Homo sapiens: one gene and its partners. The protein of the gene in region 5 purifies or fractionates together with the protein of the main gene of each other region. This does not show direct contact. Each region holds a gene or a part of one and is shown on either strand. Other genes may lie near its edges. The genes, in order: SPRTN, POTEI, UBE2B, SART3, POLH, PLD1 and DHX16.

Region 1 (4,318 bases), on a different chromosome or scaffold from region 5:
TGCACTCCAGCCTGGGCAACAAAAAAAAAAGAAAGAAACAAAGAAAGAAAGAAAGAAAAGAAAAGAAAAGAAAAAGAAAAAGACAAAGTACAGAAGAATGTACATAGTATTTTGTGTAAGAAAAATTTTGTATGGTGGGGAGGAGGAATAAAAATGAATAGAAATATTTGCAAAACAGAAAAATGAAAAGAAACTAACAGCTCCTACAGCAAGTAAGGAGTTCAAGATAGAGGAGGACACTGAACAAGACATCTTTGTGTATAGCTTTCTACAGCTTTTGGGTTTTGATTCAGAAATCATGAAAACTTGAAACAAACACTAAAACCTACTGCTCATTCCACACCAAAGATGCACAAGTTTCTGTGCAAAATTAACAAAAGCATTTAAGATTGCTGGGGTTTTTGCTCTAAAAAATATAAATAATTTTTTTAAGCAAAAATCAGAAAGATCTTCAAAGACATACCTTTTTCATGATCCTCCATAATTTTTTTAAAAAACAATTTCCATCAGAAGAACTAGACTGTCATTAATGAATTTTAGTCTTATAAAATTATGCTGAACAGAAAAATGAGAGAATCAAACATTTTAACTTGGTCATTCATATATCCCTCTAAAAATTATCAACTGTATCTCTTAAAAGGAACTTTATTTATTTATCTTATTATTTCTCAGAGATGGGGTCTCACTTTTTCACCCAGACTGGAGTGCAGTGGCATGATTATATTTCACTGCAGCCTCAAATTCCTGGCATCAAGGGATCCCTCTATCTCATCCTCCTGAGCAGCTGGGATTACAGGCGCATGTCACCACACCTGGCTAATTTTTTTTCAATTTTTTGTAGAGACAAGGTCTCACCATCTTACCCAGACAGGTCAACTCCTGGGCTCAAGCAATCCATCTATCTGATTACGTGCATGAGCCACTGTACCCAGCCAGAACTTTATTTTTCAAGTAAATGCCGCTCAACGAAGAAGACTCAAATTCAAGAAAGGTACTGCAAAAGTTTCTCAATGTTCTAAATTAGAGCAATGATAAAGATCTATTCTCATAAAGGAGAAACAAATTTAGGTTCCTGATTTTTGGTTCAATTTAATTAAACATTAAAAAACATCTTGAAAATGGTACTGAACTTTTTAAATATCTATCATTTTCCATATTTAGTCTTAATTCAAGGATCTATACACAACACAGTCCCAAAATACCTCTGTTTTCCATGACTGTTCTATCGGGTTAAAATGAACTACCTCTAGTCCTAAATATGCCCCCAGTTGTCTGAACTCACTTTTGTTCACATTATTCCCATGCTTTCTGCCAAGAGTAGCCTCCTGTCCTATCTCTGCTTGTCAAAAGTACAATTCGTCCTTTAATGCTCACCTCTCCATGTTTTAATCGCAGGAGTGATGAGTTGAATGGTAAAGGGGACAGAACAAGAGCCTTAGAGTCAGGGAAACTGGAACCTAAACCCACAATCACAGCATGAGACCTGGGACAGGCTCCAAGTGGCTCCTCATCCCTAAAATGGGATATCCTCATTTTGCATGGCTGTGGTAAAGACGACGTTTAGTCCAAAGTCTGACACACAATAGGTGCTCAATAGTGAGCAGCAGGAGTGGTGATGGTAGTAACAAAATGTACAGTTATAAAGCTTTTCTTGACCTCCTCAACCAGATAAAGTCTGTTCCTTTTCTGAACCCCCTTCTCTATGATTTAGGTAACTACAGTTGTGCCTCACTTGGCAGGGATATGTTCTGAAAAATCCATTGTTAGGCAATTTTGTCATTGTGCAAACATCTTAAGAGTGTACTTACACAAACCTAAATGGTATAGCCTATGTAATATATATATATATATACACACACCTAGGCTATAGAGTATATATACCTAGGCTATAGAGTATATATACCTAGGCTATAGGGTATATATACCTAGGCTATAGAGTATATATACCTAGGCTATAGAGTGTATATACCTAGGCTATAGAGTATATATACCTAGGCTATAGAGTATAGCCTGCCGCTCCTAGGCAACGAACCTGCACAGGATGTTACTGTACTGAATGCTGTAGGCAAGTGCAACATAATGGTAAGTATTTGTGCAACTAAATATAAAGAAGAAAAAAGGTACAATAAAAATATAGTCTTGGCCAGGTGTGGTGGCTCACGCCTGTAATCCCAGCACTTTGGGAGGCTGAGTCGGGCGGATCACGAGGTCAGGAGATTGAGACCATCCTGGCTAACATGATGAAACCCCGTCTCTAGTAAAAAAAATACAAAAAATTGGCCTGGCATGGTGGCGGGTGCCTGTAGTCCCAGCTATGTGGGAGGCTGACGCAGGAGAATGGCCTGAACCCGGGAGGCGGAGCTTGCAGTGAGTGGAGATGCGCCACTGTACTCCAGCCTGGGCAACAGAGCGAGACTCCATCTCAAAAAAAAAATAAATAAATATAGTCCTGGCCGGGCATGGTGGCTCATACCTGTAATCCCATTCACTTTGGGAGGCTGAGGCAGAAGGATCACCTGGGGTCAGGAGTTTGAGACCAGCCAACATGGTGAAACCCCGCCTCTACTAAAAATACAAAAATCAGCCAGGCGTGGTGGCGCACACCTTTAATCGCAGCTACTTGGGAGGCTGAGGTAGGAGGATCCCTTGAACCAGGGAGGCGGAGGCTGCAGTGAGCCGAGATCATATCATTGCACTCCAGCCTGGGCAACAAGAGCAAAACTCCATCTCAAAAAACAAAAAATAAAAATAAATAAATAAATAAAAATATGGTCTTATAATCTTATGGGACCACTGTTATATATGGGGCCTGTCATTGACGAAAATGTCATTTTGTAACTTTCTGCCAACAGGAAATGCTCACTTGATACTATTATACATTCCCCATTCTCTTCTCACCCACTACTTAAAAACATTTTTTTCTCATGTGTTTATGTAATCATTTACCCAATACATATTCATTAAGCAACTCTTCCAGTTAGGGCTCCTTCTAAGGCTGATTTGGTTAATCATGCTGTTCAACTTTTTAAAATGTGTATTATTTTTTTCCGCTTATTCATTGGGTTACTAAGAAGGTTGTGTTAACATTCTTCAAGTATGAGTCTGGGTGTCTTGGCTGACACCTGTAATCCCAGCACTTTGGGAGGCTGAGGCGGGAGGATTGCTTGGGCCTGGGAGGTTGAGGCTGTAGTGAGACAGGGTCTTGCTCTGTCACCCCAGGCTGTAGTGCTGTGGTGTGATCTCGGCTCACTGTAACCTCCACCTCCCGAGTTCATGCGATTCTTGTGCGTCAGCCTCCTGAGTAGCTGGTACTACAGGCTGTGTCACCACACGCAGCTAATTTTTGTATTTTTAGTAGAGACGGGGTTTCACCATGTTGGTCAGGCTGGTCTCAAACTCCTGGCCTCAAGTGATCCGCCTGTCTCAGCTTCCCAAAGTGCTGGGATTATGGGCGTGAGCCACCGCACCCAGCCTGATTGTATATTCTTTTTGCTTCTGCTAATTTATGCCTCATAAAATTTAAAGTTATGTTATTACTTTTGGAGAGATTATGTATTGTTGCTTAATAGATTATTTTATTATTATAAAATATCCCACTTTTCCTCTAGTAAAACTTCTTCCCTTGAAGTCTTTAGTCTGATACTAATACTGGTTGAACATCCCTAATTTGACAATCCAAAATCTGAAATGCTCCAAAATCTAAAACTTTTTGAGCACTTACAAGATGATTAAAGGTTAAGTTCTAAGGAAATGCTCACTAAAGCCATTTCAGATTTGGGACTTTTGGATTAGGGAAGCTCAACCAGTAAGTATAATGCAAATATTCCAAAGTAAAAAAAAAAAAAATCTGAAACACTTCTGGTCCCACTTTGGATAATGAGTACTCAACCTTATAGCCACAATAGTTTTCTGCTTTTAAGTGTTTGGATGATTACTTTTCCTCATCCTTTTAAACTTAAAATAAGTGTGTCTTTACTGTAAGCATGTCTCTTTTAATCTAGCATGCCATTCCATGTATTTAATGGAGTGTTTAGTCCACTTACATTTAACTGATATTTTGTTTACACCTACCTTTCTCTTTATCATCTGAGCTCTGTTCTTTTTCATTAATCAAGTATTTCTACTGTACCACTTTACATTTAGTAGCTACTTTTTAAACAAACTGTGGTAAAAAAAATTAACAAAATTCCCCAACTTACCCATTTTTATGTGTACAGTTCAGTGTTGAGTATATTCACACTGTTATGTAATCCATTGCCTTTTATTATCCTTAAAAACAGCATCTCTCATCTCCAAGCATGTTTTAACATGCTTCCCA
Region 2 (3,505 bases), on a different chromosome or scaffold from region 5:
ATATCAGAGTGTAAACCTAATCTTAAAAATGTAGTCAAATTGTTAATCTTATATTTTATGCCTCTGGGTTTTTTGTAACTCAGAAAAAGGCTTTTTTAATTCTGGGATTCTTAAAAATCCTCTAGTGATTTATTTTTCATCGTCTTTAAATAAATATTTAAACTTTTAGGAATTTAGGAGCAGATTCCTAAAAGTTTAAATATTTATTTAAAGGCGATGAAAAATAAATCACTGGAGGAATTTACACTCTTATTAGGTTTGAAGTTTTGTCCAATTTTTTTCCAGTTAAATATCCACTATGGGGATTCTTTCATTATACAAATACATGTTATTTTTGAATTTCAGAAGAAATAATGATATGTCAATCTATTGAGTGCTAACTAAAAGTTCTCTTTGTTTACTTAGCTTTCTCTTAGTTGTAAGAAAGAAAAAGACTTCTTGCATGAAAATAGTACGTTGCGGGAAGAAATTGCCATGCTAAGACTGGAGCTAGACACAATGAAACATCAGAGCCAGCTAAGAAAAAAGAAATATTTGGAGGATATTGAAAGTGTGAAAAAAAAGAATGATAATCTTTTAAAGGCTCTACAATTGAATGAGCTCACCATGGATGATGATACCGCCGTGCTCGTCATTGACAACGGCTCTGGCATGTGCAAGGCCGGCTTTGCGGGCGACGATGCCCCCCGGGCTGTCTTCCCTTCCATCGTGGGGCGCCCCAGGCAGCAGGGCATGATGGGGGGCATGCATCAGAAAGAGTCCTATGTGGGCAAGGAGGCCCAGAGCAAGAGAGGCATCCTGACCCTGAAGTACCCCATGGAACACGGCATCATCACCAACTGGGATGACATGGAGAAGATCTGGCACCACACCTTCTACAACGAGCTGCGTGTGGCCCCTGAGGAGCACCCCATCCTGCTGACCGAGGCCCCCCTGAACCCCAAGGCCAACCGCGAGAAGATGACCCAGATCATGTTTGAGACCTTCAACACCCCAGCCATGTACGTGGCCATCCAGGCCATGCTGTCCCTGTACACCTCTGGCCGTACTACTGGCATCGTGATGGACTCTGGTGACGGGGTCACCCACACTGTGCCCATCTATGATGGGAATGCCCTCCCCCATGCCACCCTGCGCCTAGACCTGGCTGGGCGGGAACTGACTGACTACCTCATGAAGATCCTCACCGAGCGTGGCTATAGGTTCACCACCATGGCCGAGCGGGAAATCGTGCGTGACATCAAAGAGAAGCTGTGCTATGTTGCCCTGGACTTCGAGCAGGAGATGGCCATGGCGGCCTCCAGCTCCTCCCTAGAGAAGAGCTACGAGCTGCCCGATGGCCAGGTCATCACCATCGGCAACGAGTGGTTCCGCTGCCCCGAGGCGCTCTTCCAGCCTTGCTTCCTGGGCATGGAATCCTGTGGCATCCATGAAACTACCTTCAACTCCATCATGAAGTCTGATGTGGACATCCGCAAAGACCTGTACACCAACACAGTGCTGTCTGGCGGCACCACCATGTACCCTGGCATGGCCCACAGAATGCAGAAGGAGATCGCTGCCCTGGCGCCTAGCATGTTGAAGATCAGGATCATTGCTCCTCCCAAGCGCAAGTACTCCGTGTGGGTCGGTGGCTCCATCCTGGCCTCGCTGTCCACCTTCCAGCAGATGTGGATCAGCAAGCAGGAGTATGATGAGTCAGGCCCCTCCATTGTCCACCGCAAATGCTTCTAGGTGGACTCTGACTTAGTTGCGTTACACCCTTTCTTGACAAAACCAAACTTCTCAGAAAACAACATGAGATTGGCATGGCTTTATTTGTTTTCTTGTTTCATTTTTTGTTTTGTTTTTTATTGGCTTGACTCAGGATTTAAAAACCGGAATGGTGAAGGTGACAGCAGTCGGTTGGAGGAAGCTTCCTCCAAAGTTCTACAATGTGGCCAAGGACTTTGATTGTACATTGTTCTTCTTTTCAATAGTCATTCCAAATATTGTGAGACGCATTGTTTCAGGAAGCCCCTTGCCCTGCTAAAAGCCACCCCACTTCTCTCTAAGGAGAATGGCCCAGTCCTCTCCCTAGTTCACACAGGGGAGGTGATAGCATTGCTTTTGTGCAGATTACATAATGCAAAATTTTTTGAATCTTCGCCTTAATACTTTTTAATTTTGTTTTATTTTGAATGATCAGCCTTCGTGGCCCCCCTCTTTTGTACCCCAACTTGGGGTGTATGAAGGCTTTTGGTCTCCCTGAGAGTGGCTGGAGGCAGCCAGGGCTTACCTGTACTCTGACTTGAGGAGAGTTGGATAAAAGTGCACACCTTAAAAAAAATTGAGGAAGCACAGTATTTCAGTACAGTGGACAGCTTAGCATGTTGACAACTGAGAATAAAATGCTCAGTTCTGAACTGGACAATGTAAGACACAACGAGGAAACACCGGAAATGGAAATTCAATTACGTCATTGTAGACTGGCTGCTGCTCTACATGATTGTGACCAAAGTCAGATAGCTGAAAGAGACTTCTTTCCAGAGAACAAGACATGAACAGGTTTATTTACAGAAGACAATGAATTCTCATTTATCTCACCTAAAAGAGAACAGATTCTTTCTCAACAAGTCTAACGTAGACAGTAAAATCAACAGGCTAAAAATTAAGCTCCATGAAACAAGATAAAACTCTGAGAGAAAAGACGGGGCAGGCCGCCATCTTTCCCGTTCAGGCAACTTAGTCATTCCAGCCTGCGGGCTTTGGAGAGTACAAACCGACGAGGGACAGAAGAGATCCCACAGCACAGCATAGCTGCTTTACCAAATCATGGCCAGACTGCTTCTGTAAGCAGGCCCCTGATCCTGTTCCATCTCACTGGACAGGACCTCCCAACTGGGGCCTCCAGCTACCCCCACCAGCATTCCTTGGCCAATGGAAATGTGAAATGTTCCTGGGACAGAGCTCCCGGAGAGGGGCAGGCCCCCACCTTTGCTCTTTCGGTGACTAGCCATTCTGGCCTGCGGGCTTTGGAGAGCCCAAGCTGACAAGGGGTGGAAGAGGTACCTCAGCACAGCACAGCCACGCTACCAAAACGTGGCCAGACTCTTGTTTACGTCAGTCCCTGACCACATTTCTAGTCAGTGGGTGAAGTCTTTCAACCAGGGTCTCTGGCTACCTTGACTGCTGTTCTCTGGCCGACAGAGGTCTCAGGCCTCCCTGAGTCAGAGCTCCCAGGGGGAGGACCAGATTGTCATCTTTGCTGTTGGGGCGACCCAGGCATTTCAGCCTTAGGGCTTCAGAGTGTCTGAGGCGGACCAGGGGCTGAAGTGAACCCCCAGCACAGCACAGCTGCTCTATAAAAACGTGGCCAGACTTTTCTTTTTGAAGCAAGTCCCTGTTCTTGTTCGTCCTGACTAGGTAAGACTTCTCAACTTGCCTCCAGCCACATCTTATAGGTGTGTTCAGATTGGCAACAGGTTCGTACCTCAGTGGTACAGAGCTTCCAGAGGAAGGGGCA
Region 3 (4,318 bases), on a different chromosome or scaffold from region 5:
CCTATTGACTCCTGTGGCCTCAGTTACCATCCATGTGCTCAGTATTCCCAATCATTGGCCTTAGCCTAGATCTATCTCTCAGCTTCAAAGCCAACTTACTGTCCATCCCACAGAAACATCAAACTTAGCTGCCCAAAGCAAAAATTAGTAACTCTGTAAAACCCATAAAAGTGTAAAACAATTTTAAAGTTCTGAGTAACTATTTCTGAGAATCCAAAAGTAAATCAGAACTCAAATATCTTATCAACTAATGAACAAAATACAGAATATCCATACAGTGGAATATTATTCAACAATAAAAAATGAATCACAGATACTATTATATCACAACATAGATGAGCCTTGAAAACTTTATGCTGGGTGACAGAAGTCAGTCACAAAGGACCACATAGTATAAGATTCCATTTATATGAAATATCCAGAATAGTCAAATCTAGAGGGAAAACACGTTAGGGGTAACACTTACCTAGGACTGAAGCGGGGAGGGTTAAGACAAACAGAGTTGACTGCTAAGATAATAGTTATGGGGCTTTTTGTTGTTTTTAAAGTGGTCATGGTGATGGTTATGATTATGCTAAAAACCATTTGAGTTGTACAATTTAAGTGGGTCAACAGCTTGGTGTGTAAATTATATTTCAATAAATGTTTTTAAAAAAATAAACCAGAAAGTTAAATTATAAAAAAGTACTCAGCAGAATAAAAGGGAAACCATGCTATAAATATGAAGAGATGTGAAAACCAAATACACTGTGGTTTCTTAAAAATTTGCTTAAGTGATAACCCTATATTTATATCCCTTACTCATTCTACAGTCTTTCCCACCTTTATTTAAAGACCCCCTTATCATAATTGGTTTGGTTTGACTCAATAACAAGTCTAAGCAAGATAAAGCTACAGTGGAATAAATGGTAAATGACCTGGGAACTTCCCCAAAAAGAGAAACAGAAAATAAAATTAAACCTGTCTTGGACAAAAAAAAAAGCAAAAAAGGCAGCTAGAAGGAAAAAGCAACTTCACAGAAATGAAGTGCCAAAGGTAGTATCTATTACTGGAAAGTCACCTTGATTCCAGACACAAACGAAACACATCTCTCCTCTGGGTAGGGAGCTCTATAATGTATTCTGCAGTACTAGAGACACGACCAAGAGGACCTCTGAAAATGTTCTTCCTGAAAGTGAGTTGGCTGATGGGGAACGCCACATTTAAATGAGCAAAGGCTGTGAGACTGAAGAGGAGCTTCAAGAATTTGGAGAAGTCTTTCACATGGTAATTTATAATACAGAAATATAAATGTAATAGATGTAAACAGCAAGATGTCAAGGAAGACCAAATTTATTACAAAGGAATTAGCCATCGTTTAGTGAAGAATAGTAACAAACTACTCTATGAAGTGAAAATGAGAACAATTCCACTGAAGGAAAAAAATGGAAAATGACATTAAAAGCTTTAAAAACACACAAGCCTCTGACCCAGTAATCCCCACGTTTAAAAAACTTAGTCTAGTTGTTATGCAGCAATTAAAAAAACAAACAAAAAACTCAATCAAAATAATAATTAGTATCTGAAAAGATTTATTTTGAGGCCGGGCACGGTGGCTCACACCTGTAATCCCAACATTTGGGAGGCCAAGGCAGGCGGATCACCTGAGGTCAGGAGTTCAAAACCAGCCTGGCCAACATGGTGAAACCCCGTCTCTACTAAAAATATAAAAATTAGCTGGATATACAGCTTTGGGAGGCTGAGGCAAGAGAATCACTTGAACCCAACAGGCAGAGGTTGCCGTGAGCCGAGATCATGCCACTGCACTCCAGCCTGGCCGATAGAGCAAGACTCTGTCTCAAAAAAAAAAAAAAAAAAAAAAAAAAAGCTGGGTATGGTGGCACACATCTGCAGTCCCAGCTACTCAGGAGGCTGAGGCAAGAGAATCACTTGAACCCGGGAGGTAATGGTTGCGATGAGTCGAGATCACACGACTGTACTCCAGCCTGTGTGACACAGCAAGTGTTTTTCTCAACAACAAAAAAATTTTTAAGATTTTTAAGAATGTTCAAAGTGCTATTTAAAATTGTAAACAACTGAAAACTATCAACAATTGGACACTGGTTAAAAATATGATAAATCTATGTAACAGAACATTTTGCCATTAAAAATGATGTATCAGAATATTTATTTTTTTGAGATGGAGTCTTGCTCTGTTGCCAGGCTGGAGTGCAGTGGCGCGATCTTGGCTCACTGAAACCTCCGCCTCCCGGGTTCAAGCAATTCTCCCGCCTCAGCCTCCCGAGTAGCTGGGACCACAGGCATGCGCCACCATGCCCAGCTAATTTTTGTATTTTTGGTAGAGATGAGGTTTCACCACGTTGACCAGGATGGTCTTGATCTCTTGACCTCATGATCCACCTGCCTTGGCCTCCCAAAGTGCTAGGATTACAGGCGTGAGCCACTGCACTCAGCCCAGAATATTTATTAAGGAAAATGTTCACAGTATATTAAAAAAACAAAAACAAACAAACCAAAAAAAACACCTTATTTTATATATAACATCCCAATTTTCTTTTTTTTTTTTGAGATAGGGTCTTGCTTTGTCACCCAGGATGGAGAGCGGTGGCACAATCATGGCTTGCTACAGCCTCAACCTCCCAGGCTCCAGCAATTCTCCCACCTCGGCCTCCCTAGTAGCTGGGAATACAGGTACGCACCACTGTGCCCAGCTAATTTTTGTATTTTTTGTAGAGACAGGGTTTCACCATGTTGCCTAAGCTGGTCTTGAACTCCTGGGCTCAAGCAATCCACCCTCCTCAGCCTTCCAAAGTGCTGGAATTAATAGGCATGAACCACTGTGTGTGGTCATTGACTCCAACTTTGTATATGCAAAATTGTACTTTTGAGATAGAATCTTGCTCTGTTGCCCAGGCTAGAGTGCAGTGGCACAGTCATGGCTCACTGCAGCCTTGACCTCCTGGGCTCAAGTGATCCTCTCACCTCAGCCTCCATAAGTAGCTGAGACTACAGGTGTGCGCCACCATGCCTTGATATTTTTTTTGTTTTTTATAGGGATGGGACCTCGCTATGTTGCCCAGGCTGGTCTCTGACTCCTGGTCTCAAGCAACCTTCCCACCTTGGCCTCCCAAGGTGCTGGGATTATAGGTATGAACCACCACGCCTGGCCAAAATTGTATTTTTGAAAAGCTTAATTTTAGCCAACAGATTTTTCTTATTTTTCACAATTCCACAAATAAATAGATAATACTTTTATCTATTTCTTTTAGTAGAGACAGGATCTTACTATGTTACCTAGGCTGGCCTCAAGCCACCCTCCTGCCTTAGCCTCTGGAGTAGCTGGGACTACAGGTGTGCACCACTGTGCCTGGCTTACATATTACCTTTGTTTTTTTGGAGACAGAGTCTTGGTTTGTCACCCAGGCTGAAGTGCAGTGTTGTGAGCTCAGCTCACTGCAACCTCCGTCTCCCAGGTTCAAGTGATTCTCCTGTCTCAGCCTCCTGAGTAGCTGAGATTACAGGTGCCCACCATCATGCCTGACTAATTTTTGTATTTTTAGTAGTGATGGGGTTTCACCATGTTGGCCGGGCTGGTCTCAAACTCCTGACCTCAGGTGATCCGCCCACCTTGGCCTCCCAAAGTGCTGAGTTTATAGGTATGAGCCACCATGCCCGACCATGTATTACTTTTAATTCAGGAGTTATTAAAACAACTTGACCTCAAATTTGGAAGCTTTGTAAGAGTCTAGCTACAGAAACATAGCTAAAGGCTGGAAAAAATGGCCCATTCCTGTAATCACAGTGCTTTGGGAGGTCAAAGTGGGAGGACTGCTTGAGGCTAGGAGTTCAAGGACCAGCCTGGGCAACACACAGAGACTTTGTGTCTACAAAAAAGAAAAAGAAAACAAACAAAAAAATTAGCTGGGCATGGTGGTCCACACCTGTCGTCCCAGCTAGTTAGGAGTCTGAGGCAGGAGGATTACTTGAACCCAGGAGTTTGAGGTAACAGTGAACTGTGACTGTACCACTGCACTCCAGCAGGGGTGACAGAGTATAACTTTGTCTCTGAAGAAATAAGAAACAAACCAAAAATCCACAACAAACCCAGCACTTTGGGAGGCCAAGGTGGGCAGATCACAAGGTCAGGAGATCGAGACCATCCTGGCTAACATGGTGAAACCCCGTCTCTACTAAAAATATAAAAAATTAGCCAGGCGTGGTGGTGGACGCCTGTAGTCCCAGCTACTCACAAGGCTGAGGCAGGAGAATGGCGTGAACCCGGGAGGCGGAGCTTGCAGTGAGCCGAGATCGCGCCACT
Region 4 (4,318 bases), on a different chromosome or scaffold from region 5:
AAGTACAAGTTAGGGGTTTTCTGGTTGTTTTCGGGGGGACATGAAGGGGCAAAGGATCCCACAGAGGTACAAAGATTTTTCTAAAACACAGCAGACTTATTTCAAGAAGTATTTAGGATAAATAAAAAGACCTGAAAGGAGAAATGAGAGCTAAGACTAAAAAGGCTGGCAGGAGCCAGTATAAACGATTACTCTCTTGCTTTACAATCCACATCATGACTTGTTAAAGACAGAAATTGCTAAGATTTCTGGGGGAAAAAGTCACCAATACCTAGTCTACATCATTTGCCCAATCACAATGTATCTGGGGAACTGGGACATCTCGCCAAAAGTTGTATTAAGAACATGTTCAGCTCTAAAGTGAAAAACATGTGCTTAAATACCTTGTTTGAAATCAACCCTTCTCCTCAGGTAATCAAGGTATGCCTGCCAAATCTCCACATAATCAGTGGCCTGGATGAAGCCGGCATTCAAAGCTTTCTCGAAGGTTACTGGAGTTGGAGAAAAGTCAGGATTTGTTACCAATTCAAATGGAAACTAATAGAAAGTCACTACATTCTACTGACTATAAAACACTACATGACTTTAAAGACTAATAGATGCAACAGAATGAAATGAGCTAGACAGGAATGTTGAAGACAGAAGTTGCTACAGCACTCTACAGACTGTGTTCTAGAAAAAACTTCTTCCACAAGACGCCCTGCAAGAAAAGTTCCAGATCAAGGAAGTTTGGAGAAAACACTACAACTTCTTAGAAAATACAATGAATATTAGCATGTTAAAAAGCTCTAAGAAGCCACAAATATAACCAGTTCATCTCTCACTCAGAGCCCTTTTTGTCACTACACTCCATAACCCAAAGAAAACCCCAGGGAACACTGATGTAATGACTTTGTCACCGCTCTCTGTTTTTCACTTGGGACAAATAGCTTAGAAGTTCTCCCACAAAAACATCCGCACCAGAAATTACTTGATGATCAACTCCATGTCTCTCCATGGCCAAGAGGTACCGACTCCATAAGGCAACTGTCCAGGGGCAGTTTCTAATAGCGCGGTTATGTACAGATAAAACCAAATCCTTTACTTTCAGTTGTCGATCCTATGATAAAGAATTCCAGAGTTAGGAAATTACACTTTATTAAGCATTCACCATCAACAAGACATTGCCAGCACGACCAAGTGATGAAAGAAATGTCCTTATAAACATCTCTTGTGACCTGGTTTCCTCAACAACAACAAAAAAATCACTAAGGGGAGTGGAGGAGAAGGAGAGGAGCAACTTACAGGTTAAAACAGCCTTAAAAGACGTCAGCCAACCCTACTGGATAGACCTCATTTGGATCCTTTTATACAGACACACTGAAATATTTTATATACACATACTGAAATATTTACCAACGAAATATCATTTCTGGATTTGCTTCAAAGTAACACAGAAGGGACAAGTAGGTGAGACTACAGATCAAAGTAAACTAAAGCTATAAATGTTACTAATTGTTGAAGCTGGGTGAGGGGTACAGAAGTTTCATTTTACTGATCTGTCTACTTTTATATGTTTACATTTTTGCCATAATAAAAAGTTAAAAGAAAAATATCAAGTTGTTATAAGTCCTCAACACAGACAATATGCTCATTTTACTTACAGTTAGTGACCATTTTTAAATAACTTGAAACACTAAAACTTTCTAAACGAGTTGGCAAAGAGGAGAAAAAGCAGATGGAGGAAAAGCAAGAGTAGGGCCGTATGCAACAAACTCCTGGCACTCTTACTGATTTTAAGTAGATTCTAAATTGGCAAAAATAAAATGAAATTAGAACAGTGATCTTACTAGGTACTGACTGTAACGGATCCATAAGTCTGGGACAAGGCAGTTCTCGACCAGGGCGCGCTCAAAGATCAACTGAATGCGAGCAGGATCGCCAATTTTCATCTCAAAATCGATATATGCTTGATATTCTGCCAGCCTTGGTGCCTCTGCCTGCAACTGGAGTACAGGAAAATTGTATTGAATTTAGTTACTGGCAGGAAGCACAACACATCTGCAAATAAAATAAATTTTGGCAAAACTGGCTACAGTAACTATGAATCGCCAAATCCTCACTCTCAGAACCACTCCACTATGGCCTCTACAACTTCTTGAGCAAAACAAGAGTCTTCTCATCTGGTCCAAAGTGCCAGTTCATGGCAGTCGCTACAAAGGCTCCATAAACTCTTTTCTAAATCCATTCCTAGACCACAGGGAATTAAGTAGCCCATCAATCAGGAACTGAGTGAAAGAGCAACACCTTTGCCAGTGACCACTGTCAACCACCCTTCCAAACCAGAAGTCATGTTCTTGGGCTACTGAGTAGAGTTAATACAACCAAACTGGAAAATTTTGGTGCCTGATGCTATTTCAGGTTTCTTATTCCAAATATCAGTTCCTGGAAGAATGTAGATAAATGCAGAAGATGAAGGCAGCTGTGCTGAATGTTTAATGATCCAAAGACATACAATCAAATTCTTTTTAGAAAAAAATCTTATTCGACATGTTTTCTCTTCAGGCACATTTTGCTGATGGCCATGACATAATTGAATGATCGAAGTTTTGGGAAGCACAGGTACATGCAAATCATTTACACATGAAAAAGAAAGGATGAAGCAGTGCAGGAGAGTAAGAGAACACACAGACTCCATATGTAGAAAGGGGATGTTTCAGGGCCTCCATTTCCAGTAACGAGGAAGAATTAGTTACCCAGACACACTGTACCATTCAAAACAACTAAAACTGCTAAATTAAATATAATATCTTCTTAAAAGTCATCAACAAACTGGCAAAGAAACAAGAAATACTAAGGACTAAGGACAAAATCTAAATGAGGGTGGCAAGCTAAGTAAACATTAACCTTTTGCTGGCTTGACGTATATTAAGAATCTGACCTTCACAATCCTATTGTTGGCAAAGAAAGATAGAAAAAAAGAGTCAAGAAGCCCAAAAAACTTCAAGCCAGTCCACACATGGACCTACTGCAGTGAAATTAGAGGACAGCAAACCAAATCAATGAGATCTTAAAAGCAGTCAGACAAAAAAGTGACTACCTCTGAAGAAGCAAGATTTATACAAACCGCTGACTTCTCAACAGCAACAACAGACATCAGAAGACAGAAAGATACAATCAATTGCTGAGAGGACACATTGTCCGTCTAGAATTCTTTTGCTGTTGTCGGTCTAGAATTCTATAGCCTAAGAAAATAATTTTCAAGAAGGGAAGCAAAGACCTTTTTGAACACAGAAAATCTGTTACCAGCAAATCTCCCTTGCAGGGGACTCTAAAGGTCAAGTGTTGAAGACACTGGACAAATTTATAATATTATTATAAAGCTTTACAGAAAGACAAGATATAAGTAGCAGAAACCTATATATGTTCATAGATTGGAAGATGTAAATTATTCCCCAAATTGATCTCCAGGTTCAATGCAATTCCAATTAAAAAAAAAAAGATTTTAAAAATATAACTAGAAAAGCTGATTCTAAATCCGATGGAAGCATTGAAGGCAAAAAAAAAAAAAAAGCCAAGATCCTCTTGAAGAGGAAAAAGGTGGATGGGACTCACCCTATCCAAGAGCAAAACATTATAACTCTCATCATTACAACAGTGTAACATAAACCAGTGGGACAGAACAGAAAATCCAGAAGAAAGACCCACACATAAATGGACAGCTAATCTATGACAGATGTGGCACTGCACATCAGTGAGGGGAAGAAGGAATGATCAAACTCAGTACTAGAACAACTGGTTCTCCATATGGAAAAATGAAACCAGACGCAGTCTCATACCACTCAAAAATCAATCCCAGGTGGATGAGGGCCTAAATATGAAACAGAAAACTATAAAACTTTTAGAAGAAATTAGAGCTAAGTAGGGAATATTTTTTAAATAAGCACAACAAAAGCACAACCAAAAGGGAAAGAATTTTAATCTAATTGATCACTAAGAACTGTTCATCAAAAGACACTGTTAAAAAATAAAAAAGTGAAAAGGCAGTTGCAGTGACTCACGCCTGTAATCCCAGCCCTTTGGGAGGCTGAGGCAGGTGAATCACCTGAGGTCAGGAGTATGAGACCAGCCTGGCCAACATGGCGAAACCCCGTCTCTACTAAAAATACAAAAATTAGCGGGGCTTGGTGACAAGGGCCTATAATCCCAGCTAATTGGGAGGCTGAGGCAGGAGAATCGCTTGAACCTGGCGGGGCGGAAGTTGCAGTGAGCCGAGATCACGCCACTTCACTCCAGCCTGGGTGAAAGCGAAACTCCAGTCTCAAAAAAAAAGAAGTGA
Region 5 (4,318 bases):
CATAATGAGATACCATTTCACACCCACTAGAATGGCTAAAATTTAAAAAGTCAGTAACAAGGATGTGGAAAAATTGGAACCCTCTTACATTGATGGTAAGGATGTGAAATGGTGTAGCCACTGTGGAAAACAGTCTGGCGATTCCTCAAAATGCTAAACATAGAGTTAACATATGACCCAGAAATTATACTCCAAGGTATATGCTGGAAAGAAAACAGGTGTCTACACAAAAACTTGTAGATGAATGTTCATATCAACATTATTCATAATAGCCAAAAGTGGAAATATACTCAAATGTCCATTCACTAATAAGTAGATAAGCAAAATATGGTATATATTAATACAATAGAATATTATTCAGCCATAAAAAGGTGTCAGTCCTGGCCGGGCGCAGTGGCTCACGCCTGTAATCCCAGCACTTTTGGATGCTGAGGCAGGAAGATCACAAGGTCATGAGATTGAGACCACCCTGGCCAACATGGTGAAACCCTATCTCTACTAAAAATACAAAAATTAGCTGGGCGTGGTGGCGCGTGCCTATAATCCCAGCTACTCGGGAGGCTAAGGCAGCAGAATCACTTGAACTGGAGAGGCGGATGTTGCAGTGAGCCGAGACTGCACTACTGCACTCTGGCCTGGTGACAGAGCGAGACTCCGTCTCAAAAAACAAAAACAAAACAAACAAAAAATGACTAAGTACTAATACATGCTACAATACGGCTGAACCTGAAAACATATTAAGTGAAAGACTTCAAGCCAGTCACAAAAGACCACATATTTTCACAAAAGACCACATTTATATGAAATGTCCAGAACAGTTAAGCAGTGTAGTGGTTGCCTAGGGCTGGGGAGTAGCTGGGAGAGAAATGGGGAGTGACTGGTAATGGGCACAGGATTTCTTTTGGGGGGTGATAAAAATGCTCTAAAATTGTAGAATAGTTGTAGAACTCTGCAATATACTAAAACCACTGAATTATTTTAAATGGGTGAATTTTGTGGTATGTAAAGTATATGTCAATAAAGCTATTTAAAAAGGAGAGAGAAACTGCCGGGTGCGGTGGCTCATGCCTGTAATCCCAGCACTTTGGGAGGCCAAGATGGGCAGATCGCCTGAGGTCAGGAGTTCGAGATCAGCCCAGCCAACAAGGTAAAACCCCGTCTCTACTAAAAATAAAAAAATTAGCTGGGTATGGTGGCAGGTACCTGTAATCCCGGTTACTCGGGAGGCTGAGACAGGAGAATCGCTTGAATTTGGGAGGTGGAGGTTGCAGTGAGCCAAGATTGCTCCACTGCACTCCAGCCTGGGCGATAGAGCGAAACTCAGTCTCAAAAAAAAAAAGGAGAGAAACTAATCATCAGATGTCTTTAACATTAGAAAGAAAAATGTACAATGCTCAGAATTTTTTTTTTAAGTCAAATATACAGAGATAGAGAATAAAACAGTGGTTACCTGGGATGGGGGAGGGGAGGAGGAAATGGGGAGATGTAAGTAAAAGGATATAAAGTAGCAGACACGTAGGGTGAACAAGTCTATTGAGCTAATGTACAAGTGAGGACTATAGTTAATAAAATTCTATTAGAGATTTTAAGTAGATTTTAACTACTTTTTTTTTTTTTTACAAAAAAGTATGTGAAATGATAGATACGTTAATTTGCTACACTATAGTAACCATTTTACTATATGTATCCCATAGCATCATGTTGTAAACATCAAATATACACAATAAAATGTGCTTAAAACTGCCACTACTGGCTGGGCGTGGTGGCTTATGTCTGTAATCCCAACACTTTGGGAGGCTGAGGTGGGCGGATCACCTGAGGTGAGGCATTCAAGACCAGCCTGGCCAATATGGTAGAACCCCGTCTCTACTGAAAATACAAAACAAAAAATTAGCCGGGTGTGGTGGTATGTGCCTGTAATCCTAGCTACTTGGGAAGGTGAGGCAGGAGAATCACTTGAACCCAGAGGCGGAGGTTGCAGTGAGCCAAGATCATGCCACTGCACTCCAGCCTGGGCAGCAAGAGGGAAAACTCTATGTCTCAAAAAAAAATTAAAAAATTAAAAAATTTAAAAAGATTTCTTAAAATTTCCTTGGCTGGAGTTCAAGACCAGCCTGAGCAACCTAGCAAGACCCTGTCTCTACAAAAAATAAAAAAATTTAGCCAGTTGTAGTGGCATGCACCTGTAGTCCCAGCTACTCAGGAGGCTGAGTTGGGAGGAGAGCTTGAGCCTAAGAGGTAGAGGTTGCAGTGAGCCATGATTGTGCCAGTGTACTCAGCCTGGGAGACAGAGTGAGACCATGTCTCAAAAAAAAAAAAAAAAAAAAAAAAGAAAGAAAACGGATATTTCCTATGCTAATACTTTTTTCTGTCTTTGTTCCTGCTCCATAAGGTAAAGAGCAGCTGATATGTAAATTGCAAAGCCCACCCCAGGAATAAAGAAAGAAAATCTTACATCATTTCGGTCTTTAGTCAGTCTCTCCTCTAGTTCCTGGGCTAATTGCAACAGCCACCATTGTACCTAAAAAAGTATTGAGACTTTAATCTTTCATTTAAACACTCGAAGTCTATTAAGAACTAGATGGTGTTATTTGTTCTTTTTTTTCTCCCAAACAGAATTGTGCACCAAAGACTCCCCATAATCAAAGGATCACCAGATCATAGAAATGTTCCCAGTCCTTCTGTCCTGCCCTAGCTCAAGCCTTTCATTTTCTTTTCCTGCTTGTTTGCCATCAGGTGACTTTCAAGCATGTTCCAGCTCTGAGAAAAAGACAAGACCCAAACTTGAAGCATAATATCCTAGGCTTTCCAAGTCTCCATCTACTAAACAAATGAGAAATTCCATTTTATTTCGATAGACGAAAGAGAAAAAAGTAATAATCATAAACTAGTCAATTTTCAACCCAAGGACAGAACATCTGTTTTCTTCATACTTTATAAAGGTCTCCTCTAACCTATTAAACCTTCCACAGCTACCAAAACCTACCCACTGACCCCTTTAAAAGAGGTAGTGTTCTGTCAAGAATGCCAGCTTACCTGTTCCCGAGTAGCAAGAGCTGTTTTTCCTGGGAAGTTCTTACTACAGCCAATGGTTTTGGGTAGTTGCCTGGGTTTAACTGGATCATGTTCAATCCCTCGGCACATGGCATATAGCCAAGACCTAATAAGACCAGCAAAAAACGTTAAGGTGAAATTAAATGATTATTCTTGTTAAAACAAAACCAAATAACTATATTATATTGCCCTTTTATCTTTTTCATGAAAAAGGAAAACCTTGTCCAAAATTTAGTGTACCGGACCTCTGACGAAACCCCTGCCCTTCTCAGTGAATTCCAGTGCAATATATGGACAATGAGAACACTGGTTTTGTCTTCTAAAGCCAAGTCATCATTTGTATTTTTGGAAAAATGCCAAGCAAGCCACTGATTCATATCCCAAAATGTGTGTGTGCTTGCTAGGGCATTAAACACAAGGATTTTAAGAGAATATAGCATCTCAGCATGCATGAATGATGTAATTAGTATATACTCAGGCATCAAAGTAACAAATCTTATCTATCAACCACCTAGGTACATGGAAAAAACTACTCTAGACTGATGGGCCATAGTGACCCAAGATATTGAAGCAAGAAGAACCAGTGAAATAATCTCAAGAAACAAATGTTAACCTAAAGATAGGTCTGGATTTTACTAGATGGTTTTGTCTATATTTGAATATAGCATCTCCATAAAGGTTATGATTTTAAAAAAAATGAATCACTTACCCATTCTTCTCCCCAAAATGACTCTGGAGCTGGGATTCAGTGAACTGGGTCAGTTCACCCATGTATTCTATCCCTAGGATCTCAATGACAGAGGCCCCTAGCTTTCCTCCAAGACTACGGCTGATAACAAAGGAGACAAAGAATTGATAGGTCACATCATAACTATCTAATTAGCAGCAAACGTAAGACATTCTACTTTGTAAACAGCTCTCCAAAAGGTTCAGGACAAATGAGAGCATATATTCTGGGAATTCAGTTACTCTGGGAGTTAGAATTTGAGAAGAAGATTAAAAATAACATAACCAAAAGGTTAAAGTCCTTGATTAACTATCAAGTAAACTGTATATAAAACGTTCAATTGTACAACGCCTGCTGTCCTGTTTGGGGATTAAAATCCCAAACACAAAATAAATCCCTTCCATGGCTAAAACTTTACTTAAGAATATATAATCTGGCCAGGCACAATGGCTCACACCTATGATCCCACTTTGGGAGGCCAAGGCGGGAAGATTGCTTGAGTCCAGGAGTTTGAGACCAGCCTGGACAACAAAGTAA
Region 6 (4,318 bases), on a different chromosome or scaffold from region 5:
TAAAAGACAAAATATAACCAGCACCCCACCATTATGATACTCACCAGCAAAAGGTTTATCAAGTTGAACCCAGTCTTTGAAGACGAAATTGCAGTAGTCCTTTCCATGCCAGAATCTGGTTTCCCCATGCAGCTCTCCCACACCTGTCTGTAAACTACGGATGGACCCGGTATCTGTGAATGCAGCAAGACCCCCTCAGAGACTGTGGTTCAGGTGAGTCCCAGAAAGGGAGGCTCAACTCTCATTTATTAAACACCTAAAAGCTTCTTAATTTCTTAAGACACAACTAGGGTGGCATCTGTCCATTCTATTACAGGCTGTGGGCTAACAAGGTTTTACAGTCCTTACAAGTTTACTTTTAGTGGGCAGTTAGGGCTACAACAAGATTCATCATTAAACAATGAAATTTGACCTTCTCAGGCAGTTGAGTAACTTATTTCCACCACCTACCAGATCACTGGAAGAACTATCACAGAATTAACTGTGAATAAAGAACTCACAAGGTGGCACTATGAGAGCAGTAAAGCTGGTGGGGGGCTTTCAGGGGCAGAGTGGGAAGGGCGGGGAGGGGAGAGGTGGAGAAACCTGAGACGCAGGGGCAATAAAGACACCATGCCACTTCTTTTTCCTCAACCAACATGGTGCACACCTGATGCATAATTCTTTTGCATTAAAGCAAGAACCTCAAATTTACAGATAGCCCATGTTCCAGCCCTGGAATTAATTAGCTAAGTGACACTGAGCTTCAGTTTTTTAGATCATAAATCCATTATGCGTAAAATGAAGAATTTGGCCTAGATAACAGCTAAAATCTGTTGCGCTTTAACATTTATATACTTCAAATCATAGATGGCATTTATAAAAAATATGGTAACAACAGATGAAAGCTTATGATATAGGTGCAAAAGCAGCAATCTACTATAGCATTTCACAAATAACTGTGCCGAGACCATTGACTTACGGCTAAATACAAAGACAATGAAGTAAAAAGATGCAGAATTACAAATCACAAACGCAGCACTTGGCACAAAAGAGGCATTTAACAAATAGACACTGAATGCAAAAATATGTGTTGAATGAATAAATGGTACTGCTTGCAGTAGCCAGTGAGAGGACTACACTGGTCCTGCCACCAACACACTGTCCCAGAACTGTCTTTGTAAAATGCACTCTTTGCTTAAAACCCTGGAAGGTTCACATACTGCCTATAGGAAGCTCAAGTCCTAAGGGCTTAGTGTGCATAGAAGACTCTTCCCAAACTGGTGCCAATCTATCTTTCTAGTCCTTGTTTTTCCCCACCCAACCCCAGGCCCCATGCAAATCACGTGTTTCACTGTATTATAACAGGTGTGGACTGCCATGTCTCCATGCAGTTGGCACATTATTACTTCTACCTGAAATGCTCCTTTCTCCCTCTTGGCCTGATATCCTAATCATCCTTCAAGAGCCACATTAGCTATCACCTGCCATCTCCCCATAAGGAAGAGGCAGTCACTAGCACTGCTGTCATCCCACTAACAACTGCCCCAACACCTCTGACTCTGTGACGCAATTGTATCAGGATGCTCCCCTGCCCGCATCAATGCCTCACCAGTCTATAAACTCTTTGGGAGTGGGAACCAAATCTTCTCACTGCCAGTAGCTCCAAGCACCCAGGCAATCAATAAATATTTGCAGAACAAATGTTTTTATGTAATCACCACACACAATGCTAATATTCTATCTCAAACTGAATCATTAACCTTTCAAAGGCTATTAAAGTTTTCTACAGAAGAAAAATGATTTAAAATGCCATAGATTAGCAAAATGAAATCATGTTAAAAATAGACTTCTATTGACTTCTCCCAGTGATTTATTTTCCTGCTTTATGAGACTGAAAGGCCAAAGTACGGGTAGGTCTGTTTGCTCATCTATAGGCTCTTTATTGTTTACATAGCACTTTGTTAAAAGAAGAAAAGAGGGTGAGAAAAGAAACAAAAGGGATGAAAAATGAGATAAACAATATTTCAAATTTCAAATATAAAATACACATATACAATTTGCTTTCATCAACTGCAAAACTCTAAGCTAAGGCTTTACATAAACACATATACACTCATTTAAAAATTATCTTTCACCTAACAACCAGTTATGATAAGGAAAATAAAGGAAATTCTTAGTCTCAGGAAATTATCTTGGTACTAATTGAATTCAACCTGCTCATAATTCAAATTTGTTTTTGTTTTTAGCCATGGCCTAAAAACTATTCCACATAAATTAGGGTTCCTCCTCAGTACAAATGAACTATTAAGGCAATAGAGCCAAATACTAGTTCCTGTGAAAACAGTAGCTCAGAATTACATGAGTGTGGTCGAGAGGACTTATGGCATCAACAATGCTGATCCAAGGGGGTCTCGTTAGGCTGCTATCTGGCTCCCAAATGATTTCATAATTGCACCTGCCTTGTCTTTTGGCACAGATTTGTCAGGCCAATTTTCTGCATCCTCCTCTGTCAGTGGCTCAGATTCTGGCTACTAAAGTTTATGAGAAGGGGGACTTCTTGTTCCTTGCCTGGTGTCCTCTGGTCGTGCCACATCCTCCTCCTTCTATTCTCATCTCTCGGCTTCCAGGTCTCCATTTTTCTACCATTTCTCCAGCCTATCCTTGTTCTTCTTTCCTAGCTCCTCCTCACTAACAAGGTTTCCCCCTTTCTCCTGTCTTTTTGTTTTCTTTTTCTTCCTCTTTTTTTTTTTTTTTTTTTTTTTTTTGAGACTGGAGTGCAGTGGCACGATCTCGGCTCACTGCAACCTCTGCCTCCCAGGGCCAAGTGTTCAAGCAATTCTCCTGCCTCAGCCTCCCGAGTAGCTGGGATTACAGGCGCACACCACCATGCCCTGCTAATTTTTGTATTTGATAGTAGAGACAGGGTTTCACCATGTTGGCCAGGCTCATCTCGAACTCCTGACCTCGTGATCTGCCTGCCTCGGCCTCCCAAAGTGCTGGGATTACAGGCGTGAGCCACCACACCCGGCCTCTCCTGTCTTTTTCTATACAATTTCTAAAATGTGCACCTGCAAGGATGGCTTCTGTTTTGGACTCCAAATCTAAGGTCACTTCCAGTGCCTCACTTGACATTGTTTACCTAGTTCCCTCCAGAACTTTAAAATTATGTCTAACACTAAAATCATCATCATTCCATAAAATCAAGTCTTTCCTTGAGATTTCTGCTGTCTGTGTGTAGTAACTCAAGCTCAAACCTCGGAATCACCTTTGGCTCCTTTATTCTTCGCTGACTTCTCCACCCACCTCCCCACGGCTTCCCAGATCATGATGAAAATCTGCTGATTCTGCTTTTGGAAAAAGTTTCTCCCATTTACTTCGTTCTTGAACTCACTGACACAACCTTGTCAGACTCCCTGTGTCTCTACTATAAACGCTATAAAGCCTCACCCTTAATTGCTCCCTGCCCCTAGGGATTTTCCAACATTTAATGGAAGAGGTGCAATGTCTCAGTCTGATTTTCAAAGTCCTCCGTAAACTGCTACAGATATATCCCACCAGCTCAATCTGCACAAATCAGCCCTTAACCACAATTCCAAAACTCCAAAAGTTCTAACAATTCAAATGTTTTTTCATAGCTGATTTTCACAGCTCATTTCATAACTCACAGGTCAGCAAAATCTGACCTGAACTGACAAGAGGTTATTTATTATCTTTATTGATCCCACTTGGTGTTGCACAAACATAAATGGTTTGCCTACATTCCAGGTATTTCCTGGATCCTGCTGGGAGTGTAATATAGTAGAGGGTATAGGTATTGTATTACCTTTCTAAAATCCAGAACTTTCTGATTTCTGAAATCTGATTCCAAGGATTTTGTATGAGAGATTATAGACCTATATGTATTTACCACATTCTACACTCAGTCTGAGATGCCGAAATAAATACTTTTGCATTTCCTATATCTGGGTCTTAAGATGTAGTATCTACCTAAAATGCCTGTTTTTCTACCTTTTTAGTCTCTACCTACCGAATTTCTACATATGTTCAAGGCCAGTTCCAATACAGGCACTGAACAAGTTATATTTTAAAAAATATTTTGGTTTTCAAAATTTTTTGGAATTTAGAATCGTGGTTAAGGGTTTGTAGACCTGTATTTCGTCTGTGGATCAATGATGACTCTTGCAGTAGGAGTATCTTCCCTCAATGAATTACTAAAATATTAGGTTTGTAAAATATTTAAAACTCATGCTCACCTATTAGATAACAAGCTATTTAACAGCACTAGATGAATCTTACACATCCTATCCATTGCATTCCTAAGAACAGTTTAGAAACA
Region 7 (4,318 bases), about 13 Mb from region 5:
TAGTTTGAGGAAGGGAGAAAAACTGATTATAAAAAGTTAGGACTACAGCATCAGAGTGTTTCTGTAAGGCAAATGTAATCAGGGATGTTTGGCTTTCTGGTACTAACCTCTCTTCACCATGCTGTGTCTCACTTAGTTTCTACACATTTACCTTTGATACAAACTTTTCAGGACACATTATGGATGACAGCAGAAAACTGGCAATATCTATAAGGCCCTTTCCTGCCAGGAGTCCTCCCACTATGACATCATCCTCTCTGTGATCACAACTTCCTCTACTGCAAGGTCAAAGCCCCTCTGGTGGCTGGGTGGGCGTGGTGACTCACACCTGTAATCCCAGCACTTTGAAAGGCTGAGGTGGGTGGATCACCTAAGGTCAGGAGTTAGAGACCAGCCTGGCCAACATGGTGAAATCCCGTCTCTACTGAAAATACAAAAATTAGCTGGGCATGGTAGTGGGCACCTGTAATCCCAGCTACTCGGGAGGCTGAGGCAGGAGAATCATTTGAACCCGGGAGACGGAGGTTGCAGTGAGCTTAGCTCACGCCATTGCACTCCAGCCTGAGCAACAAGAACAAAACTGCATCTTTAAAAAAAAAGCCCCTCTGCTGTTCTACCCTTAAGGGGCCTGGTTCTATTTAGTTGTTTGGCTTTTCTTGTTTGTTCTGTAAAGACTTAAAATGCAGTTTATGATCATGACCTAATCTGGGTACCACAGTCAAATATTCCTTCCATGGAAGAGCCAGATAGATTTTTTTTTTAATATGGGCAAAAAATCAGAGCCATTTGAGCATTAAAAAGAATAATGATGTGAGATTATAAAATACTGAAAAATAAAAATTCATGAGTCCAATTTGACACACACAAACAAAAAACAAGGGAAAAAAATCTGTCACCAGTGAAATGACTGTTACAGCAAACGCCTTACTCTAAAAATTCGTATTTAAAAGGAAACAAACATTTACCCTTTTTAAGAAGGAACTGTAGCTTGTTCCTAGTTGTTGAGGAAAAGCTCTTCTTTATAGACAAATTCTAGCCAATACACGTAACAGGAATGACAGAATCAAAAAATCACCATTTCGGCCGGGCGCGGTGGCTCACGCCTGTAATCCCAGCACTTTGGGAGGCTGAGGCAAGAGGATCACGAAGTCAGGAGATCGAGACCATCCTGGCTAACATGGTGAGACCCCATCTCTACTAAAAATACAAAAAATTAGCCGGGCGTGGCAGCAGGCGCCTGTAGTTCTAGCTGCTCAGGAGGCTGAGGCAGGAGAATGGCATGAACCCGGAAGGCAGAGCTTGCAGTGAGCCGAGATCGCACCGTTGCACTCCAGCCTGGGCGACAGAGCGAGACTCTGTCTCAAAAAAAAAAAAAAAAAATCACCATTTTGCAATCCCCAATAAAAATAACATGTTCAGGAAAGGATTACCAGTGGCTTCTAAAAGCATTTGATGAAAGGCTATTGGTAGAAAGGATATTAATACTAATATATAGATACACAACTGGATAGTATGTCCCCGTGATATGACATAATATGAAGTGCACATCACCGCCCAAGAAGTGTTCCTGCCACAACTGTTTAATCTGAGTGTCAATAAGCTTTAGACCCAATTCCTGCTTCAAAGAAAGCACAGGGCAGAGAAGTACTTAACACCACAAGATAAGAATCAGGCAAATCCAGAATGTAGGACACTGCAAGGTGAGACAGACAGAGAGAGAAACAAACTTAACATCTAAGACCCAAATGCAATGCATGAACCTTGACTGCATTCTTGTTAGGAAAAAGCAGTCATTAAAGTTATTTTGAGGGTAATGAGGGTATCTTTTATTGTAGAGAGATCTTAGTCGATACATAAGAATTACTGTTCAACTTCCTGACTGTGACAAGAGCATTCTGATTTTAGAGGACAATATCTTTATCCTTAGCAGGTACACACTGATGTACTTAGAGATAAAACGCCATGATGTCTAAGACTCTTTTAAATGGTCTGAAAAGAAAAAACATACCACATTTACAATTACAATGCAAATACTACCCATAGTATTAACCATTTTTCAATCTGAATAGTGTCTATGAGTGTTCTTTGTTCTATTCTTTCAACTTCCCTATGTGCTTAAATATTTTTGTAATCGAAAAAGAAAAATTACAGCTGGGCACAGTGGCTCACGCCTGTAATCTTAACATTTTGGGAGACCGAGGGGGGTGGATCGCCAAAGGTCAGGAGTTTGAGATCAGACTGGCCAACATGGTGAAACCCTATCTCTACTAAACATACAAAAATCAGCCAGGCATGCTAGTGCATGTCTGTAGTCCCAGCTGCTCGGGAGGTTGAGGCAGGAGAATCACTTGAACCCGGGAGGCGGAGGTTGCAGTGAGCCGAGATCATGCCACTGCACTCCAGCCTGGGCGACAGAATGAGATTCTGTCTCAAAAAAAACCCGAAAAATTAAATTCAGGCCAAAACAGTAACACCACTACCACCACAACTGCACTGAGATGTCCCAGAAGCCTAACCACAGTCAATTTCAGGAAGAGATATGAGATAAATTGGTCAGGAGAGACCTGGGAACCAGTAGGCCATTCTTAGAACTCCAAAAGTTGGCCGGGCACGTGGTGACTCACGCCTATAATCCCAGCACTTTGGGAGGCCGAGGCAGGTGGATCACCTGAGGTCAGGAGTTCAAGACCAGCCTGACCAACATGGAGAAACCCCATCTCTACTAAAAATACAAAATTAGCCAGGCGAGGTGGCTCATGCCTGTAATCCCAGCTACTCTGGAGGCTGAGGCAGGAGAATCGCTTGAACTCGGGAGGTGGAAGTTGCAGTGAGCCAAGATCACGCCACTGCACTTCAGCCTGAGCAACAAGTGCAAAACTCTGTTTCAAAAAAATAAATAAATGAATTTTAAAAAGTAAAAACGGCCAGGCGTAGTGGCTCATGCCTATAATCCCAACACTTTGGGAGGCCAAGGCGGGCAGATCACAAGGTCAAGAGATCAAGACCATCCTGGCCAACATGATGAAATCTCCTCTACTAAAAATACAAAAAATTAGCCGAGTGTGGTACTGCAGGCCTGTAGTCCCAGCTACTCAGGAGGCTGAGGCAGGAGAATCGCTTGATTCCTCCACCAGGGAGGCACAGGTTGTAGTGAGCTGAGATCGCACCACCACACTCCAGCCTGGCAACAGAGTGAGACTCCATCTCAAAAATAAATAAATAAAAATAAAAAATAAAACAAAACAAATAAAAAGAAGGCTGGGCATGGTGGCTCACGCCTGTAATTCCAGCTCTCTGGGAGGCCAAAGCAGGTGGATCACAAGGTCAGGGGTTCGAGACCACCCTGGCCAACATGGTGAAACCCCGTCTCTACTAAAGGTACAAAAAATTAGCCAGGCGTGGTGGTGTGCGCCTGTAATCCCAGCTACTCAGGAGGCGGAGGTTGCAGTGAGCCGAGATCGCATCATTGCACTCCAGCCTCGGTGACAGGGCAAGACCCCGTTTCAAAAAAAAGAAAAAAGGTTTAAAAAAAAAAAAAAAAAAAAAAAGGAACTTCAAGAGTCTCAAAATTCTATTGGGGTATTGGGGAATCTAAGTGTGACTTTACTTGACAAGACCAGGCCTTTGGAAAACAGCTTACCCTACCTAGTTTCACACCATAAAAAGTCCAGTTTATGAATTACAAGGGCTCTGTCCCTGTCCAGTGAGAAGACACAGGGAGATCACAAAGCCACATAAGGGGTGCAGGAATTAGGTGGTGGGAAGGTATTTGGAGATGGTGTGCCTAAGCTGAATGGTCAGCACATCCCTGTACAGTGGGACTGCTGCCCTGCCCTTGCCCTCCAGCAACCTTCTTGACAACATTCCAGCTGCCTCATATCTCATTAGGACTCAGGAATAGGGAAAGCTCACAATTTCATTCACTAATAGAGTATATTTGATCCTAAAGTTAAGAGTCAAGGAGGACTTATGGGTAGCCTCCTTCCCCCTACAACTTAAGAAGGATCCTTCCCTCAACAACATAAGTCTATCCTCAGCTGGCTCCTAACAACCAAGCCCCTCTTCTAGAAACCTGACCACCCCATCAGCATCCACACTGTGCTTCCTCTGTATCCTCTCTCCCTATACACTCTATCAGAAAGTCTTTCCTTTTGTCTTCTGATCTTGGCTCCCTAGGCCCTGGGACTCACCATGGCCTTCCGGTCTTCCTCGGCCATCTTGAGGCGCTTCTGAGCCTCTTCATAAGCCTAGAAGAAAAAACAAGAATGGAGGGGTGTGAGGCCAAAGAGCCCCCACACTGACAGCTGCTCCCCTCTAG

What was found.
Region 1: the proteins of POLH (region 5) and SPRTN purify together in Homo sapiens (affinity purification with western blotting; one study listed by BioGRID). This does not show direct contact.
Region 2: the proteins of POLH (region 5) and POTEI purify together in Homo sapiens (affinity purification with mass spectrometry; 2 studies listed by BioGRID and IntAct, with this or other methods). This does not show direct contact.
Region 3: the proteins of POLH (region 5) and UBE2B purify together in Homo sapiens (affinity purification with western blotting; one study listed by BioGRID). This does not show direct contact.
Region 4: the proteins of POLH (region 5) and SART3 purify together in Homo sapiens (affinity purification with western blotting; one study listed by BioGRID). This does not show direct contact.
Region 6: the proteins of POLH (region 5) and PLD1 purify together in Homo sapiens (affinity purification with mass spectrometry; one large-scale study listed by BioGRID and IntAct). This does not show direct contact.
Region 7: the proteins of POLH (region 5) and DHX16 purify together in Homo sapiens (affinity purification with mass spectrometry; one large-scale study listed by BioGRID and IntAct). This does not show direct contact.

Annotation. Positions count from the first base shown.
Region 1 is NC_000001.11:231,340,860-231,345,177, reverse strand, and holds part of SPRTN (DNA-dependent metalloprotease SPRTN), read right to left. Parts: intron 1-4,318. UniProt on the Homo sapiens protein: DNA-dependent metalloendopeptidase that mediates the proteolytic cleavage of covalent DNA-protein cross-links (DPCs) during DNA synthesis, thereby playing a key role in maintaining genomic integrity.
Region 2 is NC_000002.12:130,461,045-130,464,549, reverse strand, and holds part of POTEI (POTE ankyrin domain family member I), read left to right. Parts: intron 1-405; coding exon 406-1,734; 3' UTR 1,735-3,505.
Region 3 is NC_000005.10:134,381,022-134,385,339, reverse strand, and holds part of UBE2B (ubiquitin-conjugating enzyme E2 B), read right to left. Parts: intron 1-4,318. UniProt on the Homo sapiens protein: E2 ubiquitin-conjugating enzyme that accepts ubiquitin from the ubiquitin-activating enzyme E1 and transfers it to a E3 ubiquitin-protein ligase. In vitro catalyzes 'Lys-11'-, as well as 'Lys-48'- and 'Lys-63'-linked polyubiquitination.
Region 4 is NC_000012.12:108,537,105-108,541,422, forward strand, and holds part of SART3 (spliceosome associated factor 3, U4/U6 recycling protein), read right to left. Parts: intron 1,986-4,318; coding exon 1,830-1,985; intron 1,100-1,829; coding exon 961-1,099; intron 492-960; coding exon 384-491; intron 1-383. UniProt on the Homo sapiens protein: U6 snRNP-binding protein that functions as a recycling factor of the splicing machinery. Promotes the initial reassembly of U4 and U6 snRNPs following their ejection from the spliceosome during its maturation.
Region 5 is NC_000006.12:43,603,457-43,607,774, reverse strand, and holds part of POLH (DNA polymerase eta), read right to left. Parts: intron 3,884-4,318; coding exon 3,764-3,883; intron 3,161-3,763; coding exon 3,037-3,160; intron 2,522-3,036; coding exon 2,456-2,521; intron 1-2,455. UniProt on the Homo sapiens protein: DNA polymerase specifically involved in the DNA repair by translesion synthesis (TLS). Due to low processivity on both damaged and normal DNA, cooperates with the heterotetrameric (REV3L, REV7, POLD2 and POLD3) POLZ complex for complete bypass of DNA lesions.
Region 6 is NC_000003.12:171,677,522-171,681,839, forward strand, and holds part of PLD1 (phospholipase D1), read right to left. Parts: intron 174-4,318; coding exon 45-173; intron 1-44. UniProt on the Homo sapiens protein: Function as phospholipase selective for phosphatidylcholine. Implicated as a critical step in numerous cellular pathways, including signal transduction, membrane trafficking, and the regulation of mitosis.
Region 7 is NC_000006.12:30,666,220-30,670,537, forward strand, and holds part of DHX16 (pre-mRNA-splicing factor ATP-dependent RNA helicase DHX16), read right to left. Parts: intron 4,248-4,318; coding exon 4,191-4,247; intron 1,109-4,190; exon of another isoform or gene 966-1,108; intron 595-965; exon of another isoform or gene 1-594. UniProt on the Homo sapiens protein: Required for pre-mRNA splicing as a component of the spliceosome. Contributes to pre-mRNA splicing after spliceosome formation and prior to the first transesterification reaction.